4 linked regions of the Homo sapiens genome follow. The protein of the gene in region 1 interacts with the protein of each later gene in a biochemical or structural test. Each region holds a gene or a part of one and is shown on either strand. Other genes may lie near its edges.

The links.
Region 2: the proteins of BMP2 (region 1) and COL2A1 form a complex in vitro, tested with the Homo sapiens proteins (one study listed by BioGRID).
Region 3: the proteins of BMP2 (region 1) and BMPR1B form a complex in vitro, tested with the Homo sapiens proteins (3 studies listed by BioGRID and IntAct, with this or other methods).
Region 4: the proteins of BMP2 (region 1) and ACVR2A form a complex in vitro, tested with the Homo sapiens proteins (3 studies listed by BioGRID and IntAct, with this or other methods).

What each region holds. Positions count from the first base shown.
Region 1 is NC_000020.11:6,762,920-6,771,098, forward strand, and holds the start of BMP2 (bone morphogenetic protein 2 preproprotein), read left to right. Parts: upstream 1-4,766; 5' UTR 4,767-5,956; intron 5,957-7,200; 5' UTR 7,201-7,207; coding exon 7,208-7,553; intron 7,554-8,179. UniProt on the Homo sapiens protein: Growth factor of the TGF-beta superfamily that plays essential roles in many developmental processes, including cardiogenesis, neurogenesis, and osteogenesis. Induces cartilage and bone formation.
Region 2 is NC_000012.12:47,994,318-48,001,873, reverse strand, and holds part of COL2A1 (collagen alpha-1(II) chain isoform 1 precursor), read left to right. Parts: intron 1-320; exon of another isoform or gene 321-889; intron 890-1,748; coding exon 1,749-1,955; coding exon of another isoform or gene 1,956-1,958; intron 1,959-3,442; coding exon 3,443-3,459; intron 3,460-3,672; coding exon 3,673-3,705; intron 3,706-3,809; coding exon 3,810-3,842; intron 3,843-3,949; coding exon 3,950-4,003; intron 4,004-4,166; coding exon 4,167-4,268; intron 4,269-5,248; coding exon 5,249-5,326; intron 5,327-5,954; coding exon 5,955-5,999; intron 6,000-6,110; coding exon 6,111-6,164; intron 6,165-6,565; coding exon 6,566-6,619; intron 6,620-7,396; coding exon 7,397-7,450; intron 7,451-7,556. UniProt on the Homo sapiens protein: Type II collagen is specific for cartilaginous tissues. It is essential for the normal embryonic development of the skeleton, for linear growth and for the ability of cartilage to resist compressive forces.
Region 3 is NC_000004.12:94,753,263-94,761,095, forward strand, and holds the start of BMPR1B (bone morphogenetic protein receptor type-1B isoform b precursor), read left to right. Parts: upstream 1-4,692; 5' UTR 4,693-4,806; intron 4,807-7,833. UniProt on the Homo sapiens protein: On ligand binding, forms a receptor complex consisting of two type II and two type I transmembrane serine/threonine kinases.
Region 4 is NC_000002.12:147,917,611-147,925,166, forward strand, and holds part of ACVR2A (activin receptor type-2A isoform 1 precursor), read left to right. Parts: intron 1-836; coding exon 837-982; intron 983-2,619; coding exon 2,620-2,734; intron 2,735-5,362; coding exon 5,363-5,501; intron 5,502-7,556. UniProt on the Homo sapiens protein: On ligand binding, forms a receptor complex consisting of two type II and two type I transmembrane serine/threonine kinases.

The sequences.
Region 1 (8,179 bases):
CATGTTGCATTTCTTCCATTGAATTCTAAGTAAATTATGTGCAGAGATTATGTACTTTTGTATTAACTGGAGCCCAATAACATAGTGCCGTGGGCTTTGTAGTTGCTCAATAAATATTTGTAGACTGTATGTAAAAGGAAATACTATAGTTGACTCTTCACAGTCTATTTAACAGAAAGTCAAAACATTTTAATATCATTGACAAGGTATGCAAATGTATTAGTATATGATAATTAAATAATATGTAGTGGATATTTAAAACAATCGTACTTGGCCAATTTGGCCTGGCTTAGGCTTTGCATATAAATTACCCCACTCCACTCATCCTTCCTATTATGTCTAATCAAATGCAAAATAGGTAAACATTTGAATGACTAAATGCTGCTCTTTTGCTGTGGCTCCCGGGGTTCCCATGAAAGAATTTCATGGAGGTAAAGTAATCAGAACCGGTATTGGGTGTTGCACTAGTAACAAAGTGTTACTCATGCTAAAAAGCCAACAGGCTTCTCAGGGGAGTCTTATTTTGAAGACTATAATCATTTTCCAGAAGCATGTGCTCATTCAACCCATATTTTTGAAATCTACCAAGTGCAAAAGAAAATCACATAAGATAAACTCACATCTTTCGAGAACCAGAACCGATGGCCTTAATTTGCATGTATATAGTAATACAAATTTGCAACCTTTTGTTGTCTTCACACATATCTTCTCATTTATTCTTCACAACCTCCATGAGAAGTCAACTGTTAGTCTCTATAGAGTATTCATGAGGGAGCCGAGGCTATGAGAATTTGTTACTGCCATAGATCAGAGGTCCCCAACCCCCGGGCCATGAATAGTACTTGTCCATGGCCTGTTAGGAACCCCCAGGGGCAGGTGAGGGAGCATTACTGCCTGAGCTCTGCCTCCTGTCAGATCAGCAGCAGCATTAGATTCTCATAGGAGCTCAAACCCTACTGTGAACTGCATGTATGAGGGATCTAGGTTGCATGCTCCTTATGAGAACCTAACTAATGCCTGACGATCTGACGTGGAACCGTTTCATCCTGAAACCATCACCCCCAACCTGGTCTGTAGAAAAATTTTCCTCCACAAAACTGGTCCCTGGTGCCAAAATGGTTGGGGACCTCTGCTTTAGATTGACTGACCCAACTGGTGGCCTTTCTGATGAAATATCCACTGTTTGGCAATATAATAAAAGCTGGGAGAAGAGAAGGAGAAGGAGGAGAAAGAGGAGGAGAAGAAAGGCATCCAAAGTCCTATTTCTTAAAACCAGGCCATATTGCAGACAGAAGGCCAAAGAATACATTTGAAGATACATAGAGTGAGTAGCAATCAGAAACTAAGTTCACACATGTTATCCATTTGACCTTCATCATGTCAGTCTGAAGCAAGCAAACATATATTTATTTACCCCAATTAACAGATGAAATGACCATTTTAAAGTCAGTCATCCATGACAGAACCAGGAATTAGAACCCAGGTCACCCAACTACATCTTAGAGTGTTATCAACATAGTTTACAGACATAACTTAAGGTGTACATCTTAAACTGTGTGACAGTCTAATCAATGCACAAAATTCATTCTTTTTAATTTTTAAGAAGATGTAGTTGGTACTTGCTGAAAGCAGTGATCCTGATTTGGCCAACTTGGCCTAGTTTCTGATATAAATCACTCCACCTCTCCCATCCTTTCTACCATGTCTAATCAAACACCAAAAAGGAAAACATTTGATTGACTAAATGCTTCTCTTTTGCCTTGGCTCCAAGTTCCTGTAAAAAAAACTTCATCCAGGTAAAGTAAGTAGGGATGGTTATGGGTGTCACCCTTGTAACAAAGCGATATGTATGCTAAAAAGCAAAGAGGGTTTCTCAGGGCAGTTGCCACAGGTTTCCATGGAATGACAATTACAAGGTAGATGGATCACGTAATGCCTGCTGTGAACTTTACAATACATGGGGATCACTATTTTAATGTTGATTTGCATAATGTTTGGCCTAGCAAGAACAATACTGAATGCTAATAGCTACAGAATGCAATAAAATGGAATATCATGTGAGCTGAAGTGCTAAAATTGCTAAAGTATGACTGTAAGCAGTTAATTTCATCCCGAGTCTTGTCCACACACAATCAAATGCAAATTTCCACTATCTCCTGAGAAACTGCCAAGAGATGACTGAAATGGAATAGCAACAACCTCCTTTATGTGGAATCATTATCTGGTCATCTTTGCTTTTTTACATAACTTGTCTGTACCCTCTGATGCATTTGAATTTGCAACTTCTACTATCCCTATCTTAAACAACTCCCCACTCCCACCTCTGCCCCTTCCACATTTGCTGGCAGATGCACTAAGTCTGATAAACTCAGCAAGACTGAATCTCACCCTCTGAACTGAAAAACTTTGAATGGACCTTTGAAAACGGTAGAATTGACAATGGTTAGCTGCAAGTGATATTTTCAAGGCAAACAGACACTCTCCCAAAGTATTAAATAACCCAGCATTCTAAGTTGCAGGTGGAAGGTAGCCATTAGTGAAGAGAGAGAAAAAAAAAAGAAATAGCTCGTCTGTATTTAGATTTATCATTTCTGACTATTGCTCTTCCCTGGAAAACGGGTAGGTACAGTCATCCTGTACTTCGATCCCAAATCAGTCTCTGGAGACTACTTATTTATTTATTTATTTATTTATGGACTTCTTTCTTTCAAGCGTTCGAACTCATTTCCACCACAAGAGGGCAGCCATCTCTAAAAAAAAAAAAATAGGGCCAAAATTTATGTAAGTTGTGCTTGGAACAAGCATTCAGTAGTTCCTCAGAAATCATACACCCTACATAAAAGAGATTCTGCAATGGGCAGCACTAACATGAAACAGTGTTCAGAAGTACCCATTTTCCCTCAGATTCTAAACTGACAAGGTTTCCACTTACCAGGTTATGAAGTTCTAAAGCTGCAAGACATCCTTGAGGTCATCACAGGATATTTATTTATTTTTTCTTCGGGTGCATCCAATAGTTATCAACTTTTCCTCCTCTTTAAAAGCTACTTAAATCTCATTGAAGTTTTGTTTTGTTTTGTTTTTGAAATCTAAGTAATGAGAGAAACAATTGTTAACTTCTCAATTAAACTTGATAGGAAAGGAAATAATTTCAGAAGCCCTGTGTCCATGAGTAGGATATGTTTTATTGCCTCCTTGTTTGCGGTGCAATGACTCTGAGTGACAATCAACTTCTATAGCACCTTTTTTTTTTTTTTCAGGAAATAAAGTAGCATGTTCCTGAATAATTCCCCCACCCCCTTTTATTTTCCTGGTAGTCAGGCTTCCTCCAAAATACCTTATTTGACCTTTATACCTTTAGAAACAGCAAGTGCCTAATTCGCCTCTGTGGGTTGCTAATCCGATTTACGTGAGCGGAACCTAGTATTATTTTAGCTCCCCTACCGAAAAAATAATACACATGGATAATAGTTCTATTACCAGCTCCTGCTTCTGACTTTTTTCTCTCTGTTTCGCAGGCCCGATAGCTCTGGGAAAGCAGAACTTGGCCTTTTCCAAAAATTTTCTGCCCTTGGTTTTGGGGATCATTTGGGCAAGCCCGAGGTGCTGTGCATGGGGGCTCCTGGAATCCTGGGAAGGGCAGAAAGCCTTGGCCCCAGACTCATCGTGCAGCAGCTCTGAGCAGTATTTCGGCTGAGGAGTGACTTCAGTGAATATTCAGCTGAGGAGTGACTTGGCCACGTGTCACAGCCCTACTTCTTGGGGGCCTGGTGGAAGAGGGTGGCGTAGAAGGTTCCAAGGTCCCAAACTGGAATTGTCCTGTATGCTTGGTTCACACAGTGCGTTATTTTACCTTCCTCTGAGCTGCTAATCGCCTGCCTCTGAGCTGGGTGAGATAAATATCACAAGGCACAAAGTGATTGTACAATAAAAAAATCAAATCCCTCCCATCCATCCTTCAGTCTGCCACACACGCAGTCTACGTTACACACATGTCACGTAAAGCAGGATGACATCCATGTCACATACATAGACATATTAACCGAAATGTGGCCCTTCGGTTGCATATATTCTCATACATGAATATATTTATAGAAATATATGCACATATTTTTGTATATTGGATATATTTATGTAACTATAAATTTACATGCGTATGGATATGAAAATAAATGCATACACATTTATGTAAAAAAATTTGTACACATGCATTTACATATGTAAATACATACATCTCTATGTATTAATGTTTAAAAACACTCAATTTCCAGCCTGCTGTTTTCTTTTAATTTTCCTCCTATTCCGGGGAAACAGAAGCGTGGATCCCACGTCTATGCTATGCCAAAATACGCTGTAATTGAGGTGTTTTGTTTTGTTTTGTTTTTTGAAATCGTATATTACCGAAAAACTTCAAACTGAAAGTTGAATAACGGGCCCAGCGGGGAAATAAGAGGCCAGACCCTGACCCTGCATTTGTCCTGGATTTCGCCTCCAGAGTCCCCGCGAGGGTCCGGCGCGCCAGCTGATCTCTCCTTTGAGAGCAGGGAGTGGAGGCGCGAGCGCCCCCCTTGGCGGCCGCGCGCCCCCGCCCTCCGCCCCACCCCGCCGCGGCTGCCCGGGCGCGCCGTCCACACCCCTGCGCGCAGCTCCCGCCCGCTCGGGGATCCCCGGCGAGCCGCGCCGCGAAGGGGGAGGTGTTCGGCCGCGGCCGGGAGGGAGCCGGCAGGCGGCGTCCCCTTTAAAAGCCGCGAGCGCCGCGCCACGGCGCCGCCGCCGCCGTCGCCGCCGCCGGAGTCCTCGCCCCGCCGCGCTGCGCCCGGCTCGCGCTGCGCTAGTCGCTCCGCTTCCCACACCCCGCCGGGGACTGGCAGCCGCCGCCGCACATCTGCCGCCACAGCCTCCGCCGGCTACCCGAACGTTCTCGGGGCCAGCGCCGAGTGGATCACCGGGGACCGCGAGGCACCCGCGCGCCGCAGACCCCGCGCGGGCTGGAGCACCCGGCAGAGCGCGCCACAGCGCCGTGGCCTCTGCTGCCCGGGCTGCGCCAGAGCCGCGGACGGGCGCGCAGAGCGCCGGGGACTCCGGAGCCGATCCCTAGCGCCGCGATGCGGAGCACCTACTGCAGGAGATCGGGGGCCTGGGACGCGCTGGCCGAGGTGTGATCGGACCCCAGGCTAGCCACAAAGGGCACTTGGCCCCAGGGCTAGGAGAGCGAGGGGAGAGCACAGCCACCCGCCTCGGCGGCCCGGGACTCGGCTCGACTCGCCGGAGAATGCGCCCGAGGACGACGGGGCGCCAGAGCCGCGGTGCTTTCAACTGGCGAGCGCGAATGGGGGTGCACTGGAGTAAGGCAGAGTGATGCGGGGGGGCAACTCGCCTGGCACCGAGATCGCCGCCGTGCCCTTCCCTGGACCCGGCGTCGCCCAGGATGGCTGCCCCGAGCCATGGGCCGCGGCGGAGCTAGCGCGGAGCGCCCGACCCTCGACCCCCGAGTCCCGGAGCCGGCCCCGCGCGGGGCCACGCGTCCCTCGGGCGCTGGTTCCTAAGGAGGACGACAGCACCAGCTTCTCCTTTCTCCCTTCCCTTCCCTGCCCCGCACTCCTCCCCCTGCTCGCTGTTGTTGTGTGTCAGCACTTGGCTGGGGACTTCTTGAACTTGCAGGGAGAATAACTTGCGCACCCCACTTTGCGCCGGTGCCTTTGCCCCAGCGGAGCCTGCTTCGCCATCTCCGAGCCCCACCGCCCCTCCACTCCTCGGCCTTGCCCGACACTGAGACGCTGTTCCCAGCGTGAAAAGAGAGACTGCGCGGCCGGCACCCGGGAGAAGGAGGAGGCAAAGAAAAGGAACGGACATTCGGTCCTTGCGCCAGGTCCTTTGACCAGAGTTTTTCCATGTGGACGCTCTTTCAATGGACGTGTCCCCGCGTGCTTCTTAGACGGACTGCGGTCTCCTAAAGGTAGAGGACGCGGGCCAGGGCCCGGGGTGGGTGGTGGGTGGGAGGGGGATTTGGGCAGCCACTGCGGTAGAGCCCTTCCTTACGTCCAGGCCAGAAGTAAACAGACCCCTCTCCAGTCCACGTGCAACGGAGCCCTGCAGGGGCTCCCACTTCCAGCTGCCCCGGGCGACCGTAAGCCTCACCCTCCCGGCCCGCACTCTTCCACCCCTCTTTCTTCCCCTCTCCCTGGAATACTTTTGGAGCTGTTAACACTTAGATGAGGTGTTTTATTTATTTATTTATTTATTTTTAATTTTTTTAAAAACTTTTTTGGGTCAAAGAAATCCCTTTGAGAGGGTAGCCCCTGGGTTTCACCCGTTAGCTGAGAACCTGTCCGCTCTGCCATGGTGATCTCCATTCTTCAAGTGTTTCCGGGAGACTTGGTTTCTTTGCTCAGAGCCGTGTCCCATTTAGGAAAGTACTAGGAGTTTGGGGTTCTCCCTACTTGTTTCCAGAAATGCGAGGGGTCAGTACTGAAGGATCACTTGGTACTGTGTTTTTAACAGCTGACACGTGCATTAATAGATATTCACCATTTACGTAATCCCGGGAAGATACATGTGTATCTTGACTGCACTGTGGGGATGCGGGATGGAGCTGCCTTTCGAGACACCCCTGAGGGTAGGGGCCTGGGACACAAGTCATAAGTGGCTTCAGAAGTTGTGGCCTTGAGCTTACAGGGTCTGGAAGCTATAAGGGTGTGTGTGTGTGTGTGTGTGTGTGTGTGTGTGTGTCAGGAAGTTCTATACAGTGCCTCTAAGGAAGTCACATGCACCATTTATGTGTGTTTATATGCCAGACAGCGCTCAGCACTCCGCATTTGGGTTTGTATAGGGGACGCAGGGTGTCAGATCAAGCGGTGGTTTTCCCAGGTTCCCGGCATTGGCTGTCAGCGCTGTGTCACACACAAAAAAGTGACAGTCATTGGCGCTGGTTTGGTTGGGGGGGAGGGCAAATCCCAAATCTGATGTCAGACGAGCTAAGCGTTGGATGGGAGCGATAAATCATCTGGTTCAGGAACTTGGGACCCTTCATTATCCCAAACGTTTGAGCTTCGGTCGGTCTTACCTAGACTCGTGAGTGTGCCAAGCCAGGAGGGCATCCTGGAGGAGGCACGCCAGCCAAATGGGAGACCGGGCCGCGGGGGCGCGAGGGGGGAGGACTGGGCGGGGAACTCGGGTGACTCACGTCGGTCCTGTCCGCAGGTCGACCATGGTGGCCGGGACCCGCTGTCTTCTAGCGTTGCTGCTTCCCCAGGTCCTCCTGGGCGGCGCGGCTGGCCTCGTTCCGGAGCTGGGCCGCAGGAAGTTCGCGGCGGCGTCGTCGGGCCGCCCCTCATCCCAGCCCTCTGACGAGGTCCTGAGCGAGTTCGAGTTGCGGCTGCTCAGCATGTTCGGCCTGAAACAGAGACCCACCCCCAGCAGGGACGCCGTGGTGCCCCCCTACATGCTAGACCTGTATCGCAGGCACTCAGGTCAGCCGGGCTCACCCGCCCCAGACCACCGGTTGGAGAGGGCAGCCAGCCGAGCCAACACTGTGCGCAGCTTCCACCATGAAGGTGAGGCATGGAGCAGGGCGTGGGGGCGGGGAGTCACCCTGCAAAGCCCTCCACCGTGGGCAGACTGCAGCCGTCCCTGTAGAGGCAGCTTGGCCGGGGCACCAGCGGACGTTTCCACTCTTGCTTCTGTACTATCGTTTCTGAATCTGATTTTAACTCACTGCTTGTGTGGTGGGGGAGCCAGGGATTCCCCTTTAGTAACTCCGCACCCTCTTCCTGGCTTGCAGCCAGAAGAGCTACTCCTCCTGGAAGAATTGGAGAGAAATCAAGTGATGGGGAAGATGAGGGCAAAAGGCATGCCTCTAGTCAGCTAAACGTGCAAGAATTCCACAGAGGGAAAAGGAGAAAAAGGGAGGCAGATTGAGATTTCTTTAAGTCTGTTTGGAAGCTTTTGCTCTATAAATCTGCCGCTTAAGCCAGGGTTTTAGGGTAGACAGAGCCAAGGGCAGAGTTTTCAGAGATAGTATTGAAAAATCAAAGCCCAGGGCCCCAAAGTCTTTCTAATTTATAGTTGATCTGGGCCTGGTTTGGAAGATTTTGAATCCCAATCTAATCCCCGTGGGAGATCAATACTACAATCAATCTTATTGTTTCCACAATGACTTTCTTGTCCTGTGCTTAAATCT
Region 2 (7,556 bases), on another chromosome or scaffold:
GGGAACCGGATCAGGCGCGCCGGGATGCTATCGGCAGCCGTTTTGGAGCAGCAATTATGGTGGTGCTGGGCTCCTCCGTCCACACCTAGGGGATCCGGTTACGGCGCTGGCTCCTTTCTGGGGCAGTCATTTAATCCCACTTTTCACTCTCCCGGTGTCTGTGAGCGAGCCGTGTCCAGAGCCGCAGCCACAGAGTCACTCAGCGGCTCTTACACCCAGCGCAGCCTGGCCCCGCCCCTGCGCCGGCGCTTCCCGGGCCGCCCTTCCCCGGGAAATCTGATCCGCACGGGGAGTGGCCCCTCTCCTAGCATTTCCCCCTCTCCTCCCTGGGTCCTCATGGGCGAGGGTGGGCTCTCCTGTAGTCTGGGCTGGAGCGCATTAACCGATGCCCCCTCTCCCACACCTTCCTCACCGCCTGCATTCCACTGCTCCAGCTATTTTAACGGCGGGTGTGTCCCCGCAACTTCTGTATTTTCCCTGGAATCCCTCACCCTCCTGTGATTATCTTGCCCAAAGGCTAGGCGGATTTCTTCTAGTGGGAAAGTAAAAAGGAAAGTTTATCTTTGGATTTTCACTCTCTTTAAAGAGCAGTGGGCAGGCTCGTTTCTTTCTCGCCCTCTGGGTTTGTGGCTCTTTCCTATTATTCATCCCCTGCTGCTGCTATTGCCTTGGGGATTTTGATGAGAAAAACAGCGCTGGGCGCTCCCTAGCACGTGGTGCGGGCTCTACAGCCCTTGGCTGCTAAGGAGCGCTCTTGTCAGCACAGGTTTCATTTGCAGCATGAATTCCAGACGGCAGGGCGCTGGTGGAGGAGACTAGTCCCTGCTATTCTTCCTCTGCAGTCTTGGAGGAGGCCAGGCCTGGACTGGCCAATCTTAGCCCTAGCCAGGTATTCAACGACCCCTGCTCCCCAAACTGGGGTGCTGTTTTCAGATGGAGGCAGGGCCTCTCCAGGCAGGGCTACAGGTGGAGGTCAGCACTGGGGGCGCTTTGGCTCCACTGGCCTCCTAAGCAGTTTATTAGCCTGCCCAAGCCCCAAGTGTATTGTTTGAATGGGTCTATCCCCCTCCCCAAATTGGTCCTAATTCTAATATGGTTCAAAGAATGAGACAAGATCCTAATTCTAATAGCTCGTCTTTTCACCCCCCTTTCTTATATACCTATTTTTGGAGCCTCACTGCTTATAGATTCCAATTTTTGTAGGTAGAATTTTCTACATTCCCTCTGAATGTTAGTTGTCAGTTGTATTTAGCTAATCCCATAATTCCCAGAGGAAGGCAGAAGAAAGAAGACTTCTCTGCTCCTGGGCTGGTGGAAGGGAGGTCTCGCCATTTTTCTGTCTCCTTTCTTTTTATAGTCCCAGAATTCCTATTCAGAATATCTTGTCTCCTCCCTTCCGCTCACCCTCCAACTCCCTCCACCCACTCCATCACCTGGTCTCCCCCGTATTAGGTGGGTAAAGAGAATATAGTATAGTAACCCCCCACCTTCATTGCTGGGTCAAGATTTTCACTGGTGAATAGACAACATGGTGCAAGGTGCATAATAAATATTTGTTGAATACATGGAAAAATCAATGATGTTTTAGGAAAATAATTTTTAAGTTCTATATGTCCAGGTGGCCCCAGCCTACATTCTTCAGCATTTGAATTCTGTCAAGTTGACTGCAACCTCTCTCTTTTTCTCTCTGGCTCCCCACCCCCTCCTTCCCTTGGCTCTCTGCTTCTCCCTCCCCACCCTTGGTGCAGAGGAGGCTGGCAGCTGTGTGCAGGATGGGCAGAGGTATAATGATAAGGATGTGTGGAAGCCGGAGCCCTGCCGGATCTGTGTCTGTGACACTGGGACTGTCCTCTGCGACGACATAATCTGTGAAGACGTGAAAGACTGCCTCAGCCCTGAGATCCCCTTCGGAGAGTGCTGCCCCATCTGCCCAACTGACCTCGCCACTGCCAGTGGTTGTAATTTATTTATTTCCTGTTCAACATAAATAAATTACTTGCAAGCACTGCAAACACGCTCCCATAGATGCTGGTCGTCTCTGCAAAGCAGAGGGGCTAGTTATCCATGGGACCTGGTAGCTGGGGTAGAAAGGAAAGGCCACTTCTCACTTGCAGGTTGAAACTGAGTGAACGAGCCTGAGACACTAGAGGGGTCCTTCTTTGCCCAACATCTCCAAAAACATTTGCTTCCAAGACACATGAAGGACAGATGTGATTCTACAAAAAAAAAAAAAAAAAAATCCTCTCTGAAATCATCTCTGCAAATTACTAGAGCCACTATGGAGATCAAATGCTCTGTCTGGCCAATCCACGAATTAATTCCTCCTCTGCCACCGACACCTTGTCTTCTCCTTAGAAGACTTCTATGTATGTGGTCTTCAGTGTGGAGAAAGCTCTGCCAGCTAGTGGGGAGACTGCAGGGGCAGAGGCTCCCTCTTTGAGTTATGGAACATTGGTGGTAGTTTCCTCTCTGCTATTACCTCTCTTGGAGTTGACCATTAATTCAGAAGCAAAATAATAGGAGAGGGAAGGGCTAGGCTTTGGGAGTTCTCGTGGGGACGGGTGGAGACAGAGCCCCATGTATCTGCACTGTAGTGGGTGGTTATAAACTCCCAGTTAGATCCAGTGCTGGTGGATGATATATGTGCAGGTGACCCCTTCCCAGCATTCATACAGATGTCCTATCTCCCTGCAGAGTGAGTGGGGACGCTTGTGTAGGTTTTTTGGGTAGCTCTTGCTGTCCGCTTCCTGCTGAAGTAGAGAAGGCCGTGGCAAGGGAAGTGAGAAGCTGCCTTTCCTTAACACTTCACCAACACTGGCTCCCTAATGTGCAGATTCCCAGATCCTTTCTGAGGGGCCCGTGTGAGTGAAGTGTTGATTGCCTTTACTATTTTGCTGCTACTGTGAAGGAGAGGTTATTGACTGGGGATGGCACAGGCTATGATGCTCCGATGCTCTTCATAACTCATATGCCTTGCTGTTTTTGTGTTTTTATTTGTGCTTGCTTCAAGGAGACCCAGCTCTAATGTAAGACCTTTCTAAGTACCTAACTCTTCCTCTGGGAGGGCTTGGGGTTCGGGAACGGCTCCCTACCCTGTGGGGGGAAGAGAGACTGAATCTGTGCTTTCCTTCTTGTGGCTGATTAGATCTTGAGCTCTTCATTGCCTTTTTGTGCTGCCCTTGCTCCTTTCTTTTGCATGCTGCCTGCTTTTTGAATAACAAAGTCTGGGTCACCTCCATTCCTCATGGGACCTCAGCAACCCCAGGGCCACAGTGGCCCTAACACCCCAACAGAGGGGTTCAGTGGAGTCACAGGAAGCTGCCGCCTTCCTTGATTGTGTCCTTTTACTTGTTTGATCTAATGAGTGTTTGAGTGACAAGAATAGGTATTTTTCCATCTCAAGATTCTTACCTTCTTCTTCTCTATATTTTTTCCCTTGCAGGGCAACCAGGACCAAAGGTAAGGGCTTTCTTCTTTTTCTTTTTTCATATTTTTTTGGCTTTATATTTTCTGCTTCAAAAGCAATGCTATGTTAATCCAGTCTGTGATTTTTTAGACATCAGAAGATATCTGTTTCAGAGGGTACCTCAACACAGGGGCTGCTGGCAGGGTTTTAGACTAGGGGCTTAGTGGGCTTACTCGGCTTAATCCTGTGAATGTTTCATGTTTCAGGGACAGAAAGGAGAACCTGGAGACATCAAGGATGTAAGTGCAAATTATTCTCACCCGGTATTGCAGCTGCTGCTCTAAATGGGTCATTTCCTTGTGCTCTCCTCTAACTTACCATCCTGTGGGGCTCTCTCTCACAGATTGTAGGACCCAAAGGACCTCCTGGGCCTCAGGTAAGAGAGGGAGAAATCTCTTTCTCCGTCCCTTCCTCGCTGCGCGCAAGTTACTGATCTGCAGGCTCCTGGCCTTGCTGTCATCTTACCATGTTCTTCACCTTCAGGGACCTGCAGGGGAACAAGGACCCAGAGGGGATCGTGGTGACAAAGGTGAAAAAGTGAGTAAAAAGCAATGCTGCTTGACCCTGGTGGACTTCCCAGGTCCCCCAAGGCCCCACCATGTGTTTAAGGGCCTGGTCACCTCTTAAAGAGCAGCCAAGGGACAGATGGCTCTTGGAGAAACACTGCTTCCCATTGATGCCTTTTTCTCTTTATGCCAAGGGTGCCCCTGGACCTCGTGGCAGAGATGGAGAACCTGGGACCCCTGGAAATCCTGGCCCCCCTGGTCCTCCCGGCCCCCCTGGTCCCCCTGGTCTTGGTGGAGTAAGTATCCTTACTTCCCATTCCTTCAGGCTGTCCCTCCAGAAATGTGGCTTTTAAATTGCTGCTTGCACTTACCTGGCTGGCTCCCAGGGCTGCCAGCAGTGTGTACATAGCCTGTCCATGGGCTTTGCCCTCAGGCCTGTAATTTAGAAGAGTCACATATTAGGCATGAGACTGTGGTGCTAAGGGCTGGCTTTTTTCACTAACTGGGATTCTATAAAGAAAGTCCTCAGTTACCTGGCTTCCTGGCATCTGTACCACGTAGTTGATGCTGGGGGGTGGGTGTAAGGGATAGGAGGAAGGATGACTGGGCACTTGTATTTCCCTGGAAGACGAGTGACCACTGTCCTTGGAAGACATTTATCCTTGGTTCTTGCCAAGTACATTCCAAGCAACTATTCACTCTCATGAAAGAGCTCCACTGAGTGAAGGTGTGTGGCTAAAGTCAATTCTGGAATCAAACCAATCAACAAATTATATGATTGCCTAGTTTTTGCAGGTTTGCTATTTTGATGTTTGCTGTATTTTAAATTCTTAAACTCAAATGGGATCACAGATGCCTACTACATCTCTTGCTGAAATATTCCAAGACTGTTGATTTTAGTCTTTTGCTGGGCACTAAAGTCTTAAAGAATAAAGAACACCCTTAGAAGGTTTGGTTATGTTTCTCCATATACGTTAAATAACATCTGTCATATTTTAGAGCATAAAAATAATTTTATAAAATGAAATGCAAGGAACTGATACTTCCTCAAATAACACTTTCCCTTCCAGTGAAATGATTTTGCCACTGTCATCTAATAATCCATTCCCAAAATTACTTTCCAGGCATCAGTGGTAATTCTGATCAATGATAGGTTAGTCTCCAACAATCAGAGTTTATCTCAGTAGAGTTCTTTGTATCCATATAGAGCTTACCTAGCCAAGTAGGGAAGACCTAGTGCCTTTCAACCTCCTAACGTTGTTGGGTTTCTTTGCAGAACTTTGCTGCCCAGATGGCTGGAGGATTTGATGAAAAGGCTGGTGGCGCCCAGTTGGGAGTAATGCAAGGACCAATGGTAAGAAAAGACACTAGTTCTTTGCAGCCAAAATGGCAGGAGGTGGCCCTTAGCAGAGCCAGAGAGTCTGACAACCTCTGCTTTACAGATAATTGCTTAGAGTGGCTCTCCTCCGTAGTTATGTAACCTCCCATTCAGCTAGCCCAAAGCATTTGGTTTTTAATGGCAATGGATGCCACTTTTAATGATGCGCTGGAGTGACTAAGAAGAATGAAGATGGGGAGATGCATATAGGCTGATCTGTTAGAAGACCAGTTGCTATTGCTCTTGGAATGAGAACTGAAGAATGCAGACAGCAGCTACTGTTCTCCAGCATCCACAGACTTCCAGCAGGAAATCTCAGCCCGCAGCTCTGACTTGGCACATGCTAAATGAAACTCAGCCTTTAGTAAACATGGCTGCTGTCCAGGAGAAAGCAAGGCCAGCTTTTCTGTCCAAATGGTGCCTATAAATAAAAATAGAGTGTTGCGTGGGGAGTGGGAAATGAGAGGGAGCAGCCACTCTAGGCCCCTTGCCCACAGAGTAACTTCTTGTCCTTTGCCCGGGCTGTTGGCTGGGAGAAGATGGCACACTGGAGGCCACTGAGGAAGCATGTGTAGTAAACCCCTCATTTTCTGTTCCGATGCAGGGCCCCATGGGACCTCGAGGACCTCCAGGCCCTGCAGGTGCTCCTGTAAGTATCTGCAATTCTTTTTGCCTCCATCGTGTCGCAGATGATTCCCAAGCACTATGATGTTTTAGCAGTTTATAGGGATTGACCTGGTATCCTCATTTTACTTTTTAGGGGCCTCAAGGATTTCAAGGCAATCCTGGTGAACCTGGTGAACCTGGTGTCTCTGTGAGTACCAGCACGGCCCTGTCCCTTCTCTGGGGGAGCCTCTAATGATAGACCACTAGGACCGCAGCTGCTGTCCCTCCCAGGCTCTGCCCAGCTCTTTCCCACAGTCGGTGGCCCCAAGGAAATTCGGATGTCACTTCCTAGCTGTGGAGGAACTCTGACAGACAGCCCAATGTGGCAAGGACCACCAGGGACTCTGTCCTAACAGCCCCCTTTCCGGGTCACCCCAGCCTGTGCTATCTGCTGCGTCCCACTATGATCTCTGCACCTTTGCTCTGACCTTCCCATCTTTCTTCTTCATAGAAGAACTGGCTTCCAAAACTACAATGTCAAAGTTTTGTCCATTGCTTAGGTGTCTTCCCACTATAACCATCTCTTAAACTATCTTCCTTTGTTTGTAGGGTCCCATGGGTCCCCGTGGTCCTCCTGGTCCCCCTGGAAAGCCTGGTGATGATGTGAGTATACACGAGTAGACAAATGAGGAGCTGCCTCCTTTGAAAGGGCCTGGAGAGGGTGTGTGCTTGGGGAGTGACAGGGAGGCACCCAGGGTGGAGGTATCTTGAGGAGCAAGACTGGGCAGTCCCAAACCCTGACGCCATCTCCTATCTATATGGCCACTGTGACTGTGCTGGCAAGTTCCCTGGGGACCGCTTTGGATCCAAGGGGAAGACAAATAATTAAAACATCATTAGCCCCAGGAAGGGAAATTGAGAAATGAGAGAAGGGAGAGAAAAAATACAAGGCAGAAAGATGTAGAGAAGGAAAAACAAAGAAAGAAGCGTTCAACAACCCAGCATTATCTTAATTGTAAATGAGTTAGAAAAAGCACAGCCTGAGTCAGGATGTCTACAAAGGATGCAAACGAAATGAAGAGACAAGAATTGGCACTCTTGTGCTATTTTTATGAATTGCATTAGACAGTAAAAGTCTCTTGAGGTTAGAGAGAGCACATACAGTCAGCAGAACCTAGGAGAGGAGAGAAAAAGCCTCTCAGGGGAAGTTGGAGGCTGGTGAGGACAGAGGAGCTTGCCCATGGGCTATGCATGTGTCCAAAAGAATAAATGGTGACCCATGAAAGGCATCCAGGCACGTGGAGTCTGAAGGAGGTGAGGGAGATGAGTGAGCCGGTAGGCAAAGGCATGGAGGGCTGGAAGGAGGGAAGCCCTCTGGGGTGCCCCCACTATGCTACTGCGTCTCTGAGGAAGCTGGGATATCTCTCTCTCTCCCTTCAGGGTGAAGCTGGAAAACCTGGAAAAGCTGGTGAAAGGGGTCCGCCTGGTCCTCAGGTAAACGCCACCGTTCCCAGCCTCAGGCATCTTTCCTAGCGTCTCCCTCCCTGTGGCCTTAAACACAGTGCATCCAGTTCAATGAGGTCACTTCTGAGATGAAACG
Region 3 (7,833 bases), on another chromosome or scaffold:
TATCAGCTGGGTGCAGCGGCTCATGCCTGTAATCCCAGCACTTTGGGAGGCCGAGGCGGGCAGATGGCCTGAGGTCAGGAGTTCGAGACCAGCCTGGCCAAAAGTGGTGAAACTTTGTCTCTACTTAAAATACAAAAATGAACTGGGTGTGGTGGTGCACACCTGTAATCCCAGTTACTTGGGAGGCTGAGGCAGGAGAATCGCTTGAAACTTGGGAGGCAAAGATTGCAATGAGCCGAGATCACACCACTGCACTCCAGTCTGGGCAACAGAGTGAGACTCCATCTCAAAAAACAAAAACCAAAAAACATTCTCAGTGCTATAGAAGCAGTTTAGTGCACTGGTTAAGACTGAGATGCTGCAGCCAGACAATTCATGTTTAAATCCTGCCTCTTCCAATTTCTAGCATGGCCGTGGGAATGTTATCTAACTTCTCTGTGCCTTGCTTTCCTCAGTTGTAAAATGGAAATAAAATAATACCTTATTATGAGGCCTCAGGTTGATAATAAATGTGAGCTACTTAGTAGTGTGCCTGTATCATGGTAACCACTCCATAAATGTGGCTTTTATTATGGAAGGTACACATTTCACCAAGTTATTATATTAACAAGCAAAAATTTAAATACTCTGTTTGTTGAGAGGCTTAACCACTTATTTTGTATATGTAGAGTCAACATGTAGCAGTGGACAATAAGACAACCACAGCAGTAGGAACAGAAGAGCAAGAAAAAGATCTCTTTCTTACACTGAAAAATATTTCCTTCACCTGATTCCTAAAATACCATACCTGAAAAGAGGCAGACTTTTATTCCACAATTAGAGAGAAATAGTTTAAAAGCACATGTTCTAGAATGTTACTTAGCATTGTATGCCTTGATTTATGACAATATATTAATGGTGGTCAAATCCTTTACCTTCAGTTTTGAGAGAAGAGGGGGGTGGAAAAGGAAAGTGGTAGGAGTGAGGATATCCATGAAGAGGAAGGAGAAGGGGAGGCTGACAGCATAGAAGCAAGCTGTGTCCCCAGGTCTGTCCTATTTCTCTACTTATAAATTCCCCAAATAGTTCAATTCCAGTGGGCCTGGGCAAATGTCTTTCTTAATGGGAAATATGCCTGCAAGTGTTTGAGAGTCCTATATACACTGCCCTGGTTTCCTTATGTAGAAGCAGAGGGGAAAAAAATCTTGCTTTTGCTAAAATTTGTCATGCACCCAATGAAGCCCCTCCTTTCTATTCTTCTCCCCCCAGTGGTCTCTATTTACTTATTTATTTATTTAGATATGGTGTGGGCATGTGGGGGTCTCACTATGTTGCTCAGGCTGGTCTTGAACTCAAGGGATCCTCCCACCTCTGCCTCTGAGTATCTGTGACTACATGCATATGCCACCACATCTGGCTCCTATGGCCTTTAAAGGCACCAAAATCCAAGGCTACAGTTAGCAATATAGGAAGTGTCTTTTGAGTCTGCTGTCTTGGTAGTTACACCATTGTCTTGGTTCAAGTATTCCTTCTTTCAATGACAGACCCTTAATTAGTTTTGTGCTTTCATTTCTCCCTCTCCAGGTACCTCTAAATGATCTCCTGAAAATCCCAGTCCACCATTTGACTCCGTGGCTTACAAATCTCCAGTGCTTCTCCATTACCTAATAAGGAAAAAATCAATTTCATTAGTATGTTTGAGAAGGTTATTTCTGAACCCTGCTTAGCCTAAGAGAGTCATCTGCTGCACCTTCTCCTCATCACTTGGATAGCAGCACTGAGATACCAGCTGTTCTCTAAACACGCCATGCTTTTTCATAGGGTTCTCCTTGCTTAGGATGTTTATTCTCTTTCTAGCCCCGCTTTGATCTCTAAAGATCCTTCAGGACCCTTATGAAATGTGACTACTCTAGGAAGGTTTTCCTGAGATTTCTAGGCAGAATAGTTCATTTTTCTATGCTCCAAAAATTGTGTGTTCATGCATTAATGCACTTCTCATAGAAAGTTCTATATATTTTTTAAGTATCTTGTTTCTTCTGTATTATGAGTTTCAAGAAGGAATGGACAGAGTTTGCCTCTCAAATACCAGGACTTGGTTTGTCATAGGCACTCAAAAATGTTGATTTTTGAATAGCTTCTTTCCAAGGCTCCCCATTCCTGCTTACAGAAATGTTACCATCTAAGGCCCACCTCAAACACAGTTTCCCCTGTACCCCATTTTCTCCCACCTGGAGTGCTTTTTTTTTTTCATCCCAAAGACCTACAGGAATTTCCTTTGTTCTCTGATTTGGAATTTTAAAAAATATATTTAAACAAGGTATTTAAAAAAATCTGTCTCCTTGTCTGCAAGTTGATTGAAGTGGAATCTGTGTCTTCTCTATCCAGAGATGCCTGTATTCCCTGAATCAGTATCTTATACCCAGCAGATTCTCTGAAGGATATTTGCTGAATGGAGGAGTTAAGCCAAGGAAAGATAATCCTTAGTGCAACTTCTGAAAAGATACAGGTGACAATACCACTAGCTCCAAAACATTCTGCATAATGTCTGCTTTATTTCACTGCAGTTTATGAGTGCTCCAATTCTAAGGGAGATTATACAGCTGTCAAATACAAATTATCAGTAATTCACACAGTAGAAAGGATAGATTCAATCAGGTTTCTTTCCTCTTTAAACTTGCTTAATGTTGATGAGATATTGACAATGATCAACACATTACATTTTTAGTTCTATGGATTTCCAGTAAATTCTCTAAGCTTTTCTATGTATACAATCATAAGCTCTGTAATGAATTATAATTTGGTATCTTATTTTCAATATTTAAAACTCATATTTCTAAACTCACATTTCATTTTCGATAATTTATTATTTTTAGTTAATTACATAATAGCTCATAATTCCTTGCTTTGTCTTTTATTTTAATGGTGTAGAAGTTATAATTTCCGTGTCTTCAAGCCCCCTTCTCCCCACAAAACACTTAGTTAATATGAGGATGGAGATGATGAAAAATTGGATTGAGGACCAGGTAGAAGGTAATTTAGGTAGTCATATGCTTTATTGTTTTGAAAGAAAGGAGGTGGAAAAGGGAAGGGGTGGGAGTGAGGGTATCAGAGAAGAATTGGGATGAGAGTAAAATGAATGGATTTTATCTTGGAATTCTTGGGGCAAGAGGATGAGTACTGGTACTGGGGACTGGAACAGTGGTTGAATAAGGAAGGTCAGATGATGTCAATGACTAATTTCACTTGTTTTGGAAATTTTCTTTCAGATACCTTTCTTCTTCCAGTTTGGCATTAGAAATCACAATGCAGATATATCATGGGGCAAAAAGACCTTTGTGGAGACTCTAACATTGCTTTTATAGAAAAAACATGACCACATCTTCATACACTCAATAAACACTGGGGGCACCGCCTGCTTTAAGTGCAAGCTGCATAAAATAAATTGATACACAAATGAATTTTTTATTGATAAGTGCAAAAAGATTACATTTAATGTTTAAAAAAGATTTAATAGAAACAATTTAAGAAAAGGGAGTAGTTGAAAGAAAATAGTAGGCTAAGAATTGAATATAGAAATAGATATGAAGAAAATTGGAAGAAAGTTACTTCAGGGTGAAAAACTGTTAAAAAAAAAAATGACTTAGATCACACACTTGGTGGTGACCAGAGACTGTTTGTCAATATTTTGGAGGAAAAAAATTTTACAGAAGGAGAAAATAAGTAATGCTGGAGAGTGGGAAGCTGAAAGGTATTGAAAGGAAAAGAGTATTTGGAAGTCACGAGATATCTCCCTGGGAAATAGAGTTGGCAAAATGGCTGATTTTAAAGAGGTTAACTATTCTCCCCAAATTTCTGACTGTGAACTAGCTTACTTTATATTTACCCACTTAGAAAGTGTTTCAACACTTAAAGACTTAGCAAGGAGACCACAAAGTATAAGACGTTACATACTTTTCCAAAAGAAACACGACTAACTGTAAACTGTCATCAAATACAAATGGAATGGGTTTTCTCTTTTGGGTTTTATTTTTTTATTTTTAATTTTTTGGTGGTTGTTTTCGTTTAACGGTTTCAAAAAATATGTAGAAGGGAAATATTTCATTTCCCTTGGACGCTCAACTGTATATATTTCAAGATTCTTAAAACCCCCACCTCAAACTGCAGGCTTAATTTTAATGTGTTCATTTTTTACAAGGTGTGTCAACGTTTTATCAATTTCTGAAAAGTGTCTATGGCCCCGAAAAGTTGAAATCCACGACATTATATCATCTCTGCGAGCCCTTTCCAGCTCTCAAGGTACAATAATTCCACGAATCTTTGTTCTTCAAACCAGGAGGTTTTCTGGAAACCTTCTTAAACAACCAGGACAGGACCCATGAGGGAAATCTTGGGGATGCTCTGAGCAGCGGACGGGGCTTGGGAAGCGCACCCCTGTACCCGGGCTGCCTCCGGCCCGCACCCCGCCGCTCCCCAAGTCGGCTCCGCACTCCGCACACAGGCGGCGGCGCTGGGGCCGCTCCAAGTGCGTTGAGAAGTGTAATCCCTCCGCTAAGTACTTGGCTCTCAGTCTCCAATCACTAGTGGGAGCTGGAGAGGGCAAGTGAAAAAAAAAAATTCCAGAGGCAGCCGAGGAGCGAGAGGGAAAAAAAAAAAAAAAAAAAAAAAAAGTCCCGCGGTGGCGGCGGCGGCGGCGGCGGAGCGGCCGCGGCGGCCAGAAGTTGACGGCGCAGCCGGGCGCGGGGCGCGGAGTCGGCGGGGCCTCGCGGGACGCCGGGCAGTGCGGAGACCGCGGCGCTGAGGACGCGGGAGCCGGGAGCGCAGCCGCGGGTAAGGCGCGCGCGGCGGGGCCCCGTCCCCTGCGGGTGGCCGAGTTCCCGAGCGCGCGGGAGGCGGCCGAGCCGGCGAGAGCCGGGCAGAGCGAGGGGCGGCGCGGGACGGGTAGCGGCTGGGTGCGGAGCTGGGCGGCGGTCGCCCTAGGCAGGACGGAGCGCGCGAGGGAGAGGGCGAGAGCGAGGGCGGGCTGCGCGGCCGTGGGGCGGTGGCGGCGGCGGGGAGGGGGTCAGGCGGTGGCCGCCTCGGCTTTGTGCGCGGGCGGCTCTGCCGGGACCCCGAGGCCTCGTGCCTGCGCAGGCGAGGAGTCGGGGCAGCGGCGGCGGCGGGCGGGACACGTGCTTCGGGCTGTAGGGACGCCCCAAGGCAGGGAGTCGGACCTGCGAGCGGAGGGATGGGGCGGGAGGGCGAGCTGAGGGCAGTCGCGGAATCCGGGAAATGGGAGGGAGCCCGGCGGGGCGGGGGCCCAGGGCCAGCCCAGGCGGGACCCGCAGGCACCCACCTGCCCCGGACGCCTCCCGAGACCCAGCCTTGCCGTGGGGGAAAGTGCGCAGCGGGCTGGTCCCGGCGCCTTGGACTGGGCTCCGTCTCTGCTTCAGTTGCCTGTCTCTTCTCCTCTCTCTCCTGCTTCTCTCTCTCTATGCCTCTCTCTCAAGTTCTGGGTCTTTCATTCTCTCCCTTTTCTTCCTTTCTCCCTTCCTCTCCTTATTGCTATCCTTTGCCTCTCCCCCCGGTCTCTCTTTCCTTCCGTGCGTCTGTCTCCCTCTCCCCACCGCCTGCTCTGGCTCTCCCAGTGTGTCCCTCCTCTGTCCCTTCATCCTCTTCCCTCTGTCACTTTCGCACAATCTTTTGGTCTCTCTCTCTCTCTCAAGAGGCTTTCGCTCCCGGTCTTCCTGGCTCCCCTGTCTCTTGCTCTCTGCGCCCATCTCTCTGCTCGTCCCTCTTTCTGTCCAGGCTCCGTGTTTCCGCCTGTGTTTGGCGGTGTTGGAGAAGAGCCTCTGGAAGTTGTCCGCTGTGGTGCGGGTCTTACTTCTTTAGAGCTGCACCCCTCCAGCTGGGTCCTGCTGTTTGTTCTGAATGGAAACGCTGCAGTTCCCTTGAGTTATTAGAAACTGCTCTTTTCTTAGCCACCTTTCCAGCAAGGTGAGGTCAGTGACTACGAGCGGCCACAAAGGTGCCAGTGAAAGACAACGGAGGAAGAGAGCCGTTTCACTACCTCCAACAGATAAAGAAAATGTGTTAATACCAAACTTACCTGCAGCAAAGCAGAGCCACCTGAGAAAAGGTTCTTGAGTTCTGCAAAGAAACATAAAAGGCTCCACTGGAAATGAGAGGGTTCAGCTAAAAAGTGTTTGCAAATAATTTGAAAAAGCACTTAATGGAAATCTCTTGCTGTGCTAAATTGATGCCAACGAATCTCTGTTTTCTTACATATATTTTTAGGATTCCAGTGACAACTCTCCTAATTATTGTTTTGGGCAAGTTATGGGAAATGTCCTGTGTCAACTGGGATGTTAGTATTTAAGAAAATATTCAGTCTTTGTACTTTATACCCCTTTACACTCTAGTGATCAAGAAGAATTATTTCTAGCTGTAAAGAAAATAGTAAAGGATTCGTCAGTAATTTTAAAACATGAGACATGCCGGTGATCAATAATGTTTTTGGAAAACTTTCATTATAAGGATGTTTTGAAGGATGTTACATCTTAGTGAAATATGTAAGTTATTACACACTTAGATCATTGTGCAATGCAAAAAAGTTTGTGTTATAAGCAGATCATAGTAGTGATGTCTTTTTATGGGAAACATAGCTGGGAAATTAATTGCTCTGATTTTCACTGTTTTCTTTAGTCATGCATAATGTACCTTTGTGTTTAGCAAAATATGGCCTAGAGCTACAAAACTTGATACAGTGTGTTATTTGTCCAATCTGAATTACCATTTAGAAAACCACCTTTTCCTTTTAGTTACATGATATAAGTTGATATGATCTCATTACTCATGTGCTAGGGGCCGCTGATGAATTTTAATGGCACTGATTTGTGTTTTTAAATCAAAATGTTAGTTTTTGGTGAGTTAAAATCTTGATTTATGTCATGTTAGTGAATCATCACTATTTATAGGGGCTTTGCCACCTTGTCTGCCAGGTGCTGCCCAGCATTTAGTCTAGGCTAGGTTGTCTGAAATTCCCTGTTAGATTATTGTCCCTGAGTGACGTGCTGCCACGGCCTGCTTATGTATGTTTCTCTAAATGTTCCAGTCGTTAAATAATATTTATTAAAAGGAAATTGACTTAAATTTTTCCTCATAAGCTTTGGGAACTGTGTGAGATGGCCTGATAAAGTATTTTTATTACAGTAAATGCTGATTTATTATTATTTGTTTAAAAGTATAAGGCAGTTTAAAATGTGCTTATCTTTTGCCACATATAGCACCTCCTCCAGCTCTTTCTGAGCACTCAAATCGTATTTATCATCCAAATCTAAAGTCAGTTGTCACCTACTCCAACCTAGCAGAGCCTTCCTGATTTTCAGAAGCCCCCTCACCACTGCCTCTGCCTCTCAGGCTTCTGAGTGCCCCTCTTTCGGTGTCCACCTCTGTGCTGTATGGTTACTTGCTTGGCGCTTCCTTGTTGGACTGTTATCTCATTGAGGTGAGATAGTGTCCCTTGTTTCTTTTTCTCTGAATTTCAGATGCCCAGCACAGTACCTGGTATGTGATAGATACTCAAGAAATCCTTGTAGGACGATTGGTTCTTTTCCAAATTACCTCTAACTTGTGATACTGATTCTTTGTGGATGCAGTAGCTCAAGGAAAATACTTAAGAATAGTGTAATAGCAGATCATAGACTTAGGATTGAAAGAGTCTTAGCATGTCATCACACACATTAATAATATTAAAGATGAAGAGGATGAGGCCCAGAGAGTTTGAAAAACCATGCTCAGAAATAGAAAGTGAGGCTAGGATGGCTATGGAATTGAGACTTTACTTTTTTCACGGTGCCACAATTCTTTTCACTGGAC
Region 4 (7,556 bases), on another chromosome or scaffold:
GATGGCAACTTTTTAACCTAAAACTCTACTCATATAAACCACCCTTTTGTTCCTTATTTCTTGTGCTGTAATTACTCTTACAAACATTTATTTTAGTGTAGGTAATGCTTAGTAATTTTCATTTACCATTTACAATTCATTTTGATTACGTGAACCATTTTTTTAAGTTTTAATCAGTCTTGCTTGTGACAAAACCAGAGTCAGGAAATTTATCTGATCTTTGATCTGTCACTAACTTGCAGGGTAATTATCACCAAAATGTAATTGCTAGTTTTCCTCAATTTTTCTACTTTTAGAGTCAGTGTGAAAGTACCATTAATGAAGTAGGAAATTATGTTTTTGGTAATTGGTTTCATCATTGTGAAATGTAAGTGGTTCTTTTACTTCTCTTATCTTGACCTAAAGGACAACAATAATCTAGAGGAATATTCTACATATTAGTTGTTATTTTATGTTGTTATTTTGTGTTCTGCTAGTCCCATGATATAACAACTCTATAGTCAGGATATTTTAACTTTTAAAATATTTTCTAGAACCTTAGATTTTCAACTAGTCTTTAAAAAAAAAAAAAAACAAACTTGTCTTATAGATTGGTGGAAGTTGACTATTCTTGTAACAAAAGTTTAAAGCTCTGGTATTTCCTTCTGGTCAAATGTTTATTAATGTGAAATGGAAGGAAATTTGAACCATTTGAACCATTCCAGAAAGATTGTTTCTTGGATATTATTTTTCCCTGAAAGGGAAACTCACAACCTCTTATAGGTAAAAAGAAAAGTCTCCTTATACATATGGCCTTTGTCAAGAACATAAGTTTCTTTTTTTCCCTCTTTTTTTAGGGTTCACTATCAGACTTTCTTAAGGCTAATGTGGTCTCTTGGAATGAACTGTGTCATATTGCAGAAACCATGGCTAGAGGATTGGCATATTTACATGAGGATATACCTGGCCTAAAAGATGGCCACAAACCTGCCATATCTCACAGGTAGACTAAATTTATATTGTTTTCCCAGATAATTGAGTATATATTTACTAAACTTTTAAGCCCCTGGGTAAATTTTAATTTTTCCTTTGTTATGCAATCATGCTTTACAAGACAGTCAGTTTTCATTTGTTTTTTAAAATTAGCTTTGAGATTGGCCAGGAAGTATTTTGGATAATGTATATGTTAACATTATTGGTAAAGTTTAATGATCTACTTCATCTCATTTCTGAAAGCATGATTGAAAATAAACTATATTTTCTCGATCTCAAAGGAAAAAGACATTTGTTTTACCTCAAAACATGATTTATCAATAGGGATTATTATCCAAGGGCATGTAATGAAGGAGAGACTTTGAATGTCTTCCTTGCTTGTTTTTTGAATGACCTTATCTGTACCCTGAGCCAAGTCTTAAAGGGAGGCATCACTTAAAACAGTTGTCCAGTGAAGAAATACTACTTAGACCCAACAGTTGTCATGCCCGCAAAAGGAAAAATGATTGTGTCTTAAACATGGAATTCAGTTTGCCATGTATTTAATTTTCTTGAACGTGGGATTCAATTTGTTGTCTTGTGTTCCATTTAAAGATGGTTGTTTGAAAAGTAGGCATTAACTGATTCACAGAACAGATACTTAGCTGAGTGCCACCAGGCGATGTTTTAGGTTGCTGGGAGGCATTATTGTAAGTCAGCCTCTAATTTAGGTTCTGATTTTGCAAACTTTAAATGACGTCTACCTCAGAAATAACTCTTCTCACTTTCTTACATGCAGTCTATTGGCCTCGTCTTCGATTTTCCCTTGCCCTACCTGGTCACATAGGGAATTAATCCTTAAGGACCCCCAAAGTTATTAAGGGCCTGAAAGTCTTTTGAAACTAAGATCGATTAGCTTTTATAGCATTTGGGAGTGTCTGCTTGTGCTTTCAGTATCCCATTATTGGTCTATATGTCTGCACATAAATTTAACCACTAGTCATTGGCATAGATGTATTTAACTAGGGTATAGTAATCTCTAGGATGAGCCAGTTGAGACAGGTGTGTAGAAGAGGATATCTTACTGCCTTAAAACTGTTACCCTTTTCAGAACACCAGGATCTAGCTAGAGCAGTGTATGTTTATGGTAAAAAGTTTCTGTTATTCATTCCATAAGATGCTTTTCTACAACCAGGTGGAAGAATATAAGAACCTCTATAATAAGGGATTATTCTAAAATGTAGGTCTCTACCAATAAGCAGAAGGCCCCAATTCAGCTATTTTTTAAAAGTTTCTTCATTTTGGTTTAAAATTTCTGTTTCTATGGGAGTTTGCAAATCAGAACTCTGAGATATTAACAGTAGTTTTATGATTGGTAGGTGGGTGACATAGATAACATATCTTTTTGGTATGGCAGATTTTTATATAACTGCTTTATAGGTAGGATTCCTTCTTATTGTCCATGTTATGAATAGGGGTTTGTCACCGTGCTCTTGTGTTTAAGGCTGCATGGGGCTCTGAGCTTTGTTTGTCTCACTTTCTCTGCATTTCATAATTTTAAGTAACTATTTTTTCATAGTGTACATATTCCCCCTTTTCTGCTTTCAATAAAAAATTTAAAAAGGTAACTAGTTTAAACTTAATTTGAATACTCTTTTTATTTGCAAGGGACATCAAAAGTAAAAATGTGCTGTTGAAAAACAACCTGACAGCTTGCATTGCTGACTTTGGGTTGGCCTTAAAATTTGAGGCTGGCAAGTCTGCAGGCGATACCCATGGACAGGTAAGGATGATGATTATAAAATGTAAGAAAAAATAAACTTGTTCCATATTTTCTTAGAATGGCATGTCAGGACTGAATTAGTCTAAAATTGTTGTGGTGTTTAAATCAGCATCTAATAGAGTTATCAAAGTTTCTGAGGAAGACATTTTCATATGATGGTAGAGGACTCAGGTGGTTTAGATCAAGCACTTCGTAAAGCAACCCTTAGACACACGTCATAGGATTCTTTTTGAAAAATTGATCAAAGAATAATCCACCACCTTTTAACAGACCTCATTCTTAGGGAATTCTTCGTATGAACTCCGTAGTTTTAGTCTGTTAGTTCTTTCACCATCTTAAGAAGAGTGGAAGAATAATTAGTCACTGTCCTTACTACAGTGTATTAAGATTTCCTGTCCATTTTCCCATGCAATAATAGTTTATTGCTTCTTGTTGTTTATTGCTTCATTAATTTCTTTAATCAACTTGATGGCTTTTCTCCAAATTCTCTCCAGAGTTCAGAGCACTTGTAAACCCCTGAATTAGGTAACTCTTCACACCTCTGTATATATCCATATGCACAGAAATCTTAGTAATGGGAACCTCTAGGAAGGCCAAAAGGGAAAAGAACATTATCCATACAGTTTATTCTCAGAAACTTTGAGGCTGGAAAAGATGTTTTCATTCCTGCAAGATCACCTTTTATTTTTATTTATTTATTTATTTTTGAGACAGAGTCTCGCTCTGTCACCCAGGCTGGAGTGCAGTGGCATGATCTTGGCTCACTGCAGCCTCTGCCTTCCAAGTTCAAGTGATTCTCCTGGCTCAGCTTCCTGAGTAGCTGGGATTACACACATGCACCACCATGCCCAGCCTAATGTTTGTATTTTTAATGGAGATGGGGTTTCACCAAGTTGGCCAGGCTTGTATCGAGCTCCTGACCTCAAGTGATCCTCCCACCTCGGCCTCCCAAAGTGCTGGGATTATAGGCGTGAGCCACCACGCCCAGCCAAGATCACCTTTTAATCAGGGAAACCAGTTCAACCTAAAAGGTGACATTTTCTACAAAGCTAAATGGTTCAGGCCTTCGACATTATCATTTCTTCATCTTTCATATCATGTAAATTATTTGGCCAACTAATTCTTAGGTTTCTTTTCCCCAGCATATCCTATTGGTTCCTGAGGACACGTTTTTAATGTCATGGCACCACCAATTTTGGCAGTATTGACTAACTATTTAAGAATGTAGTTTGGGGTAATGGTCAGTAGCCATATAGCTCTAGAAAAGTTGACTGCAAATGTGTATGGGAATGGAGGCAATTTTGTGGAGAATACTACCAAGATTGTGTAGGAAGCCTGAGGACAAACTTCTAAGCTAATTGAATGATAGACTATCATAAGACTAAATTCTGGGAACATATTCTTAATTTGGTACCTCATAAGCCCTCCCTCATTTTTTGAGAAAAAAAATTTCTGACTCATTCATGTCATATTTTTAACTCCTTCACAACTGGGTTTTATGATTAGTTAAAAATTATTGGCTTACAGTAATGACTCCTTGACTTTAGATTTCATGGACCAGAAAATTTCAGAAATATTTGGAGGGACTTGCATGTTATTGCACATTTTATATAGTACAAAGAACACATATAAAAGAGGGAACATTTTATGTCAACATGGTAAATAAACCATAATCTTACAATAAAAGAGGTAGGTACCTTGGATGGCATACATTTACCTGTAAGAGAAAAGTAGGCTTTAGGGAAACATTCACTGATAGCACAATTAAAATAATTATTCTGAGTAGTAAATTTTTTAAAAGTAGAGCCACTTTTCCCTTTAATGTGTTCTCCTTGAACTTTAGTCTTAGTGATCTGTCTTTATTCTTAAAAAAAATCTTTACATGTATATTTGCATAAATTGCCCAACTTTTAGTCTAGAGTAGAGATTATAGCCACCTAAGGATGGAGCGTTATGGACGTACCAATATCTAGACTACTCTCTAGTTCGAATACATCGCAAGTATGTTGTGATGTACCCAGCTATCTCACAAATATTTTTAAGCATTCATATATGAATGTTGTCAAGCACCAACCAAAGCTAGCTGTACTAGCTTAGTAACCATAGTTACAGTACTAAGAAATACCAAATTGTTGGGGACAGTTATAAATAAAGGACTCCAAGACAGAAGAATTTATGAATAAACAAATACATAGATTTTGTACAGATAGAACTTTTTAACATCAGTCTGTCCTTTACTTAGCTAATTCTTTTTATAACATTTTATTAGTTTTTTTAATACAGAGAAAAGACCTCAAAAAAAGTTTTTTTTTTAAAGCTACATTTCAAACAGTATGCAAAGGTACAGTTGAAAAGTATGCAGCATCCTTCTCCCAGCTGACAATTGGTTCAGTTTCTTGTGATTACATCCAGAAAGGGGAACATAAAAACTTCTAAGTCTGTACCAGCATAATGTCTGTTGATATATTTTTTAAGTATACGCAGAAAGGATCTTTCTATTTATACGCTATAGTGTGTATACCTTACCCTGGTAATAGACCACATTTGGTTTTGATTCATCTTACAAAATCATATGTTAGTTCATAAAGTTAATGAATGAGTACTCTTTGCTTTTAACATCTTTTTCAGGTTGGTACCCGGAGGTACATGGCTCCAGAGGTATTAGAGGGTGCTATAAACTTCCAAAGGGATGCATTTTTGAGGATAGATATGTATGCCATGGGATTAGTCCTATGGGAACTGGCTTCTCGCTGTACTGCTGCAGATGGTAAGGGAAAAAAATATTTTTAAAAAAGATATATATGCCTACCACACATATATGAAAAGGGATGATACACTCCAAGGTAATATTTTAAAGTACAGTTTTTTTTTAATTGACTCCAAGAGATGGTAGAGAATTCAGGAGGCAGGGGAGCAGTGGGTGGGGTAGGAGAGGAAAGGAATTGCTATGTATTGATCCTTTACCATTACTAGCTATGTTGCTGGACACTTCACATACCTTAAGGTTATTTCCTAAAACGGTTTCAGAGGTAGTTATTATGCTTTACATATGAGGAAATTGAGATGCAGAGAAATTAAGTAGTTTGCCTACTTTAGCCTCAAACTGGTGAATGATGAAACCTAGATTTGAAACTCTGATCCAGACATAGGGAGAGGTCTGCTTTAAGGTCATATGGGTCCTGCCCCCCAGGTTAAAGGGTTTCTATTACTTGTTCTTGTTATTGAAGTCCATGTTCAAGTCTTATAGATATTTGCTTTTATTTATTTATTTTTCTGGGTAAATTTTCAGACGATATTTCCAGTGTGACAGAACTATTTTAGTGTTTCAAGCACTGTCTTTAGTACTCCTTCATAAGGTCTTTACTCTGTCTTCAAGTATGTTGCAGCATTTTTTGTTTTGAATAATATAAGGCAAACTTGCCGACTGCTAAACTCCTAAACAGATGTAAATGAGCTTGATCTGTTTCTTAAGTTCTAATTTATAATTGCCTAAAAACTTCCTGTGATTGTCAAAGACCATAGAAGAAATTGTGAATATTTTAAGTTATAACCAATGTAACCTATGTTACTAACAATATTTTATTTTCTGAGTACTGTAATAGGCTCTCGTTGTAGGACAGACTGCCACTGGAATATGAAATTCAATATAGGGTACTATTAAAGGGAATTTAATAGAGTGTTCAGAAATGGGCATTCTTCCAGGATTGAGGGATTGGCTTGGGAGTCAATGCCAAACCTAAGAAAAGTTGAAGCAATTTTGGAATAATTTCAGAAGTCTTTAGGAAGAAGCGTTAAGAACGCAGAGTGTTTTGACTCTAAGAGGAATGACATTTATGATGTGCATTTATGGAAGCAGAAGTAGGTTAGATGGCAGATGTTATAGGAAAATATATTTTATAAGAACTTTATTAATATGAACTCTCCATAACAAATCATTGGATTAAGTAATTTAGGAGACACAAGACCTTATTCTCAAGTAATATACAGTTTAGTTAGGGCAATAAAATATATCCTGGACAATTAACTCTAGAGTAAGTTAAGTGTGAGTTGTCTGGCCCATTCCCCAGTACATAGGTATTCAATAAATGTTTCTGGGTTAGTGCAATACTTAAGAAATACAAGCATGTGTTTTAGGAGTTTAGGGGAGAAATTGCTTTGTTTATGGGGAAGAGAGGTTTCAGAGAAGTTCTTTTGGAAAAAGAAAAGGCTAGATACTGACTTTTCTTAAATGCCATGAAATAATTTCAGAGTCAGGCATTTCTGACTCTTAAGTCAGAACCCAATTGTTAAGTCAGAAATTGGGGTAGAGAGGATAGTGTGAGCATTGATTGCTAAAGTAGGTGCTTTCACGTGTGTTGATGGTTACTTGTTTGTTAAATGAAGTAATTCTCAAACTTTAATGTGTCATACCAGATTCTTAGGAATCTTGTTAAAATTTAGATTCTGACTCAGTAGGTCTGGGTTGAAGCCTGAGAGTCTACATTTCTTAAAAGCTAAGCTACCAGTTGACGGCAGTGTTGCTGGCCTGTACACCACATAAGTGTTGAATAGACACCTTAGAATGTCGGTACTTTGTCACTGGAAGTACTCAAGCAGAGACCAACTGTCCAGCCATAGATAATTCTTATATTTGAAGAGGGTTAAGTTAGATGACCCCTTTATGATTCATTGTATTCTACCCAGGAGTATTTAGTGCATTTCAAGAGCTTCACAAAATTTGTGTTTATGCACACATACATCTATCTGGTCACTGATACTGCTCAGTGGTGACCTGTGTCTGTCAAAGGAAGGCAATCCAGTGATTAAAACCAGACTTCAGAGT